Linked DNA regions of Homo sapiens. The protein of the gene in region 2 interacts with the protein of the main gene of each other region in a pairwise test. Each region holds a gene or a part of one and is shown on either strand. Other genes may lie near its edges. The genes, in order: SMPD3 and PLEKHM1.

What was found.
Region 1: the proteins of PLEKHM1 (region 2) and SMPD3 interact in a two-hybrid assay, tested with the Homo sapiens proteins (one large-scale study listed by IntAct).

What each region holds. Positions count from the first base shown.
Region 1 is NC_000016.10:68,438,278-68,442,097, forward strand, and holds part of SMPD3 (sphingomyelin phosphodiesterase 3), read right to left. Parts: intron 1-3,820. UniProt on the Homo sapiens protein: Catalyzes the hydrolysis of sphingomyelin to form ceramide and phosphocholine. Ceramide mediates numerous cellular functions, such as apoptosis and growth arrest, and is capable of regulating these 2 cellular events independently.
Region 2 is NC_000017.11:45,480,413-45,484,232, reverse strand, and holds part of PLEKHM1 (pleckstrin homology domain-containing family M member 1), read left to right. Parts: intron 1-1,707; coding exon of another isoform or gene 1,708-1,748; coding exon 1,749-1,796; intron 1,797-3,820. UniProt on the Homo sapiens protein: Acts as a multivalent adapter protein that regulates Rab7-dependent and HOPS complex-dependent fusion events in the endolysosomal system and couples autophagic and the endocytic trafficking pathways.

The DNA.
Region 1 (3,820 bases), on a different chromosome or scaffold from region 2:
TGGCAGACCTGCTACCCTTCTCCTGCCCAGGGCTTTTGTGAAGACCAAATGAGAGAAATAATGTAATTTATTTGAAAACCAAATAGTACTGGTAGGAATGCTCAACTGTGGTGCTACCTGGCAATACCCTCCAGAAGCTCTGGCTTTGAGACACTTGGTGAGCACACTCAACACTGCAACAAATTACCCAGATTCAGTGAGATGCCTCAAACTGATGGCCTCAGATTTCATATCCCTTTCTTTGCCTATGAGCTTTTTTGGTTCTCTAACACTTGTTAGTCTGACATTCAAGGCTTTCTCAACTCTTCTTTCCAAACATCTATTTCATATGGAAACTCTTCTCCATTTCAGTGCTCCCAAACATACCATTGTCATTCCTACCCCTGTTCATTTGATCACAACTTTCCCTTGCCTTCCTTCCCCATCCCACTCACCCCTCAGAGATTATCCATATTGTACCCATGCTTGAAGACCAAGCATAAGACTTCTCCACAAGTTGACCCACAAATCACCCTCCCTCCTTCAAAATAATAGTTACTGGGTTCTTGCTGATCTTGAACCAGAGAAGCAGTGATCTCAGTGGTTAAGAACAGGCTCTGCAGTCAGATTGCCTGGGTTGGGGTCCTGGTCCTCTTACTGTCTGCGTGACCTTAAGCAAGTTACTTAAAGTCCCTGAGCATTGCTTTCCTCAGCCGTAAAGTAAGGATAATAATGGTATTCTTTTACACATATGTATTGCTGAGCACAATGCCTGACCCACTGTAAACACTTGAACGAGGGTTAGTATTGTCTCTAAGCATTTTCATATATGTTGCCATGTAATTGCCATGGCGGGAAAAGTTAGTTTTATTGCCCCAGAGGAGAAAGATGAAGTCTGGAAAGGTTAAAGCACTTGCCCAAGGCCACACATTTGATGGTAAAAATGTGATTCAGACTCAAGTTTGGTTGGCATCCATAGCTTTTCCACTGCCATAGCCAACTTGCCTTAATCAGGACTCCTGTGGTTACTCCAGCCCCCGTTCCTTGGTTCACTCTGCATATGAGCATCTCTCCTCTCCCCAGCCAGACCCTGGTCTCCTCCTGGGGAAGGGTTCTCAAAACACCCCACTCTAGCTATCCATCATTTGGCATTTGTTGAATTAACAAAAGAAAGAATGAGTAGGAAAATGTGCATATTAACACCAGACTATCCCCAAATAACTTAGCACTGGTACTTGGTACCTGAAAGTCAGGGGCCTCCCAACAGAACCAGAGGTGAGCCTCCTTCCACCTCAATTCACCCGCTATGCTTTGAGTCAGGAAATCTGTGTTGCTCTCCTGCTAAAACATTTGAAGTGATCCTCACTTTTCCTGTAGGACTAATCTGAGTATTTTCTTTACAGTTCAACGTGCTCTGTTAACATAAGCCTTCACTGAGCTTAATACATATTTCTTTGGCTGTCTTCCTCCAGAAGGCAAACTTTTGGAAAAAAAGGTGATGGTTGAGAACAGCAACAATATGTGTTCCCTCAGAGCTATGCAGTGAATGGACCCATGGCCTGCCCTAGGAGTCAGGAGAAATGGCTCTGGGCTCTGGTTTCCAGATTTACGTTCTCTCTTTTTAAAAGCAAAGCTACTTGTAAAGTGCTGTAAACACCGAGGTCAGAACTTCAGGGTAAACATGATGGAGAACAATGCCCATTTTGCTACTTGCCTCATTATCCCAGGAAAGAGCCTCATGTGTGTTAATTGGACAGAGAAGAACATGAAAGATTGTGTAGAGTGTGCCCAAAGTTACTGATATCCTACGTTTTGGTGTAGACACACTTAATCAGGTGAAACTGTCCTTTCAATCTCCTCAGGCACTGAATAAGGATGGGGAATGACGCAGTAGAGTTGTAGAAAAGGCACTGAAGATTCTGAACAGCAAATTCTCTTTCTTTTTTTCATTGTTTTTTTGAGACGGTCTCATTCCAGTAGCCCAAGCTGGAGTACAGTGGTGCAATGTTGGCTCACTGCAGCCTCTACCTCCCATGCTCAGGTGATCCTCCCACCTCAGCCTCCTCCTGAGTAGCTGGGACTACAGGTGCACACCACCATGCCTGGCAAATATTTTGTATTTTTAGTAGAGATGGGGTTTCACCATGTTGCCCAGGCTGGTCTTGAACTCCTGGACTAAATAAATCCACTCGCCTCGACCTCTCAAAGTGCTGGGATTATAGGCGTGAGCCACTGCGCTTGGCCTGAACTGCAAATTCTATATTAAATAACAAAAAGTTCTCTATTAAAGAATACCTGAAATCCCATTTAGTCACAGCTGTCATTTGTTGAGTGCCTACTATGTACCTGATGTTTTATTTGTATTATCTAATTTAATCCTCACTACAACCTGCAACAGAGTTGGTACTATCTCCATTTTACAGAACAGAAAACTGAGACTCAGTGTCTTGTCAAAGGCCAATAAGTGGCAGAGTAGCTTTGACCTTGGGTATGTCTGATTCCTGTCCAGAATTTTTCTCCCAGAGCACAAGGTTGTCATTCCCCTGATTCCCCTGAGGAATCTGGGAGTCCAAGAGACTTAGAGCTCTTGAGTCATCTGGTACAATCATCCTCTTCCTCAACTCATTAGCTGAAGTCAAGACCTGTGCACAATGCAGTTAGCTAATTTGTTTATTCATTGTATGCTTATGTAAATGGATTGAAATCTTTCCTCGACATCATTATCTGCCAGAAAATAGGGGCCGCATACTTAGCAAGTGTTTTCAATCATGTTTTAACTAGTAATAAATCTTTTGCTTGATTTATCTGAAAATTGTCTGCTTGCTCTCCTTCCTGTTGCCCTTATCTTGTAACACTTCATAAGCTTCCTCCAATAGTAATAACAATAGTTAATATTAAGTGAACACTCACTCTGGACCTGTCAGTCACTGTTCTAAGTGATTTAGCTCAAAACCTAGGAGGTAGGCTTTATTATCACCTCATTCTGCAGGTGAGGAAACTAAGGCACAACTTGCTCAAGTTTATGCAGCCCAAATAGCAGAGCCAGGATTCAAATCCCAGGCTAATTGATTACAGACCTACTTTGCTAAATGCCTCAGTTTATAAAGAAAATATCCTCCTAAATGGAAACAGTCTAGAACAACACTGCCCAGTAGAAATATAATGTGAGTTATAAATGCAAGCCACATATACAATATAAATTTTCTAGTGGCCACATTATAAAAGTAAAAAGAAACAAGTGAAATTAATTTAAATATATTTTACTTAATATATCTAAAATATTATTTTAACCTGTAATCAATATTACCATTACTAATGCAACATTTTACATTTTTTATACTAATTTTTCAAAAGCTAGTGTATGTTTTATACTTATAGCACATCTTAATTGCCACTAGACATATTTCAAGTGCTTATGGCCCCATATTAGACAACAGATATATAGACAGACATTCTACTTTTCCTATTTTTTTCTATTATTTGTTTCTATTTCAACTTTATTTTAAAAATTTTTTAAATTAAAAAAAATTTTAGAATCTTGCTCTGTTGCCCAGGCTAGGGTGTGGTGGTACAATCATAGCTCATTGCAGCCTTGAACTCTTGGGCTCGAGCAATCCTCCCATCTCAGCCTCCCAAGTAGTTGGGACTACAGGCATTCACCACCATGCCTAGCTAATGTTTTTATTTTTTATAGAGACGGGGTCTCACTATGTTACCCAGGCTAGTCTTGAACTCTTGGCCTCAAGCAAGCCTCCTGCCTCAGCCTCCCAAAGTGTTGGGATTATAGGCATGAGCAACCGTGCCTGGGCTATTTCAACTTAAAATTTGGGTTTTGCATTGG
Region 2 (3,820 bases):
GAGATGGCTTTGCAGGGCCATTCCAAACTATGTCAAAAATATACTTGGGGGTAAGATACTTTGATTTCCTTAGGGCCTGTTATCTCCCATGTGATGTTAGACCAGTCAGGTTGGAGTTGGTATCTTAATTGCTGAGAGTCTGTTCTGTCAGTCTTAGGAGTCTGTTTTAATGTTAATGCTGGTCAGTTGTGTCTAAGCTCCAAAAGGGAGAGGCTAGGATGAGGCATGGCCCACGCCCCACTTCGTGTCATGGCCTGAACTCAGTTTTCAGTTTTTTTGAAATCCCTTTGGCCAAGGGGGGCCCATTCAGGCAGTTGGGGAGCTTAGAATTTTATTTTTGGTTTACAGCACTCACTCAGGAATCGGGTTTTCCTAGGGCTGGGGTTGGCTTCCTCCTGGGGGCTGGTGGTGGAGTCAGGCCGCTTATCAGCCCTGGGACCTCAGGAACTTCCTTGACCTGGGTCAGCTGCCATTTCCTTATCTGTCAGGTGGAGACAATAAAACAGCACTCCTAGGGTCCTTAGGAGGAACATAAATTAGGCAATATATGTAAAGAGAACTGAGCCCATTTAACTTTTCTTGGTTTTGTTAACTTCTTTGTGCGGTGATTGAGAGCTGAGACAGACATCACCTTTCCCTTTCCCCTGATGCTCAGCCAGGAGTTGGCTAGAGATTTGTTTACGTGTGAATGTGCCTGCCTGGCCCAGGTCTGTCCAAGTTGCTGTGGTGGGGCCAAGCCAGTCAGCAGCCCCCTCAGGCTCAGGCTAAAGTCCCCACCCCACCCGCCCCACCCCACCCCACCCCACCCCACCCCACCCACTTCCAGGAGGAAGCTGGCAGCCCTGAGGGATTTAACCACTCACTGACTTCAGCTCTTCCTGCATACTCATTTAGGTGATGACATTCTTGGTCTGTAGGTTTAGGTGGCCACATCCACTGGGATGACAGATGCCAGGTACAACATATCAGGTACAGGTACATATCAGGCCCCGTGACAGGCATTTTACACATTCTCCATCTGAGAGGTCTGAGCATGCCTACCTGGTTAGTGGCAAACTGCGATGAGACCTCATGGTCATCCCGGTTAGACACGTCCCTGTCTGTGCTGCTCAAGCCAGACCCTCGAAGCCCAAATGAGGAGCAGAAGTGTAGCAAGGGAGCCCTCCCCTTTTGAAGCCGTTCCAGTGGTACTTTTTACTGCTGAGCTGGCAGATGTTGGACTGGGACAGGAGTGAGGGGTGGGGGCAGGGTGTTGCAGGACCCAGCCCCTGAATGTGATGTGTGAGCCTGTGAGCCCCTGCTTCCTGGTCCCATTGGGTTCCTGCCACCTTCAGCTGCAGCCTCCCCCTCGAACCTGCAGCTCCGTATCTGAATCAGCCTGTCGTTCCCTGCCTACAGGTTTCAATCCTACAGGGCCTTGGCTTTCTGGGCAGCATTTGATGTGAAGCGCCCTTACCACCTACTCCTTGGGGTGGACCCACCCCTGGCACCCAGGACTCCTTGCCTCCCAACGACTAAGCCCCCTGGGCTTTCCTTCCTTGTTTCTTTCCTTCAAATCTATTATCAGTTTTTACTTTTGTGTTCTGCAAAGGCCTTTTTGGTTGCAGTTTGAGTAAGAGAGGCTGACCTCCTGCTGCTTGCTGGGAATGGACTCTGGCTGGGGGAAAGTTCCCTGCCCATTCATCTGGCTGCCATCTGTCTCTTCAGGTGTCATGTGATTCTCTGAGGGAGCAGCTGCGTGAGTGGAGATGCTTTCAGTGGTGGAGAATGGACTGGACCCCCAGGCTGCCATCCCGGTAGGTGGGTGAGGGAGGATCAAGGGCGGGGAAGGGCTGCAGGGGACAGTTGTATCATCGGCTTGGCTCACTTCCTTGGGCACTGTCCTGCAAGAGAGACCAGGTTGAGAAAAAGTTACAGCACAAGCAGGCTCTGAGGAGACCCTGTCTTTTCTAGATCACCTTATTGGTGATAAGATGGAGATTTATGAAAAGCAGTGGGAATTTAAGATCAGTAACCTGAAGACCAAGGATTTCCATTCAGCCCTTCAGCCCTCTGCCCTTAGGCCATGATTTGGTCACAGTCTGGCCAAAGCACTGAATGGGTGGGAAACAGATATTCCCAGGCACTGGTTTGTTGTTTCAGTAATGGGGGTAAATTGGTAACTTACATGTATCTGAACACTTACCATTTTCTAGGATATTCTAAATGTAATTATTTGTGAGCAGTTCACTGGAGCCCCCTAGGACCTTTTCTTGGACAGCCCTTTGCACCCTCCTGGGCTATCTTGGGTACTCCAGATAGAGCTCTCTGTTCTCTTGGAGAGGCAGGAAGTCAGGTAGCTTTGGGGCTGGTCCCTTAGCAGCATCCTGAGATGGCTTTCGGGGAGAAGCCAGGATTTCCTTTCCTCCCCACTGCTGCTTCCCAGCTCAGAGAACTCTGCTTGAAAGAAACTGTAGCTCTCAGAGACGTGCCTTTCCCCGTCCTGGCCACAGGAGAGTCCAGCTCCACCTGTTTCCCAGCTGGCTTTCATGCAGAGGCTCTTCCCTCCCCTCTGCACCCCCACTCTCCCACCCCCAGTGCCTGCCGAATCCCACCCCAGGACCCTCCAGAGCTAGGGCAGAAGCCTGGCCAACCCAGCCTTCTAACAACAGCTGCACAAACTGACTCCATGAGGGTATGCCTTTCTTGAGGGTATGCCTTATTTCTCCCTGTATACCCTAACCCAACACCTAGTAGGTGCTCAATTGAACGAAGTATGTATGTACTTTTTAAATATAATATACAAATAACATCTTGCTTTTAAAAGAACATTTAAAATTAGACTATTTCAAGATTAAAAACTTTTGAGCTTCAAAGGATACTACCAAGAAAATGAAAAGACAACCCACAGAATGGGAGAAAATATTTGCAAATCAAATATCTGATAAGGGTCTAGTATCCAGAATGTATAAAGAACACTTATAACTCAACAATAAAAAGACAAATAATCCAGTTATAAAATGGGTAAAGGATTTAAATAGACCCTTCTCCAAAGAAGATACACACATGGCCAATAAAGATGCTCATTATCATTAGACATCAGGAAAATGCACATCGAAACCACAGTGAGATACTACTTCACACCCCCTAGGATGGCTGTAATAAAAAAGGCAATAACTAGTGCTGGCAAAAATGTGGAGAGATTGGAACTCATATATTGCTGGTGGGAATGTAAAATAGTGCAGCCACTTTGGCACACAGTTTGGCAGTTCCTTGATAAGTTAAACATAGGGTTATGTGTACAGTTCCACTCCTAGATATATACCCAAGAGAACTAGAAATATAAGTCCACTCAAAAACTTGTACATGGATGTTCATAGCAGCATTATTGATAATAGCAAAAGAGTAGAAACAACCCAAATGTCTATTAACTGATGAATGGATGAATAAAATGTGGTATATCTAGGCAGCGGAATATTTTCTGGCAATAAAAAGGGATGAAGTCCTGATACATGCTACAACATGATGGAAAATATGCTAAGTGAAATAAGTCAGATTCAAAGGGTCATATGCTGTATTGATATCTATTCATGTGAGATGTACAAAATATGCAAAGCCACAGAAACAGAAAATAGATTAGTGACTGCATTCACTTCGTATTCCCCTTTCTCCCAGCCCCTGGCAATCACTAATATACAGTATTTCTTTTTGGGGTGATGAAAATCGTTTTTTTTGTTTGTTTTTTTGTTTTTTTGTTTTTTTGTTTTTTTGAGACGGAGTCTCCCTCTGCTGCCCAGGCTGGAGTGCAGTGGCACAATCTTGACTCACTACAAACTCCACC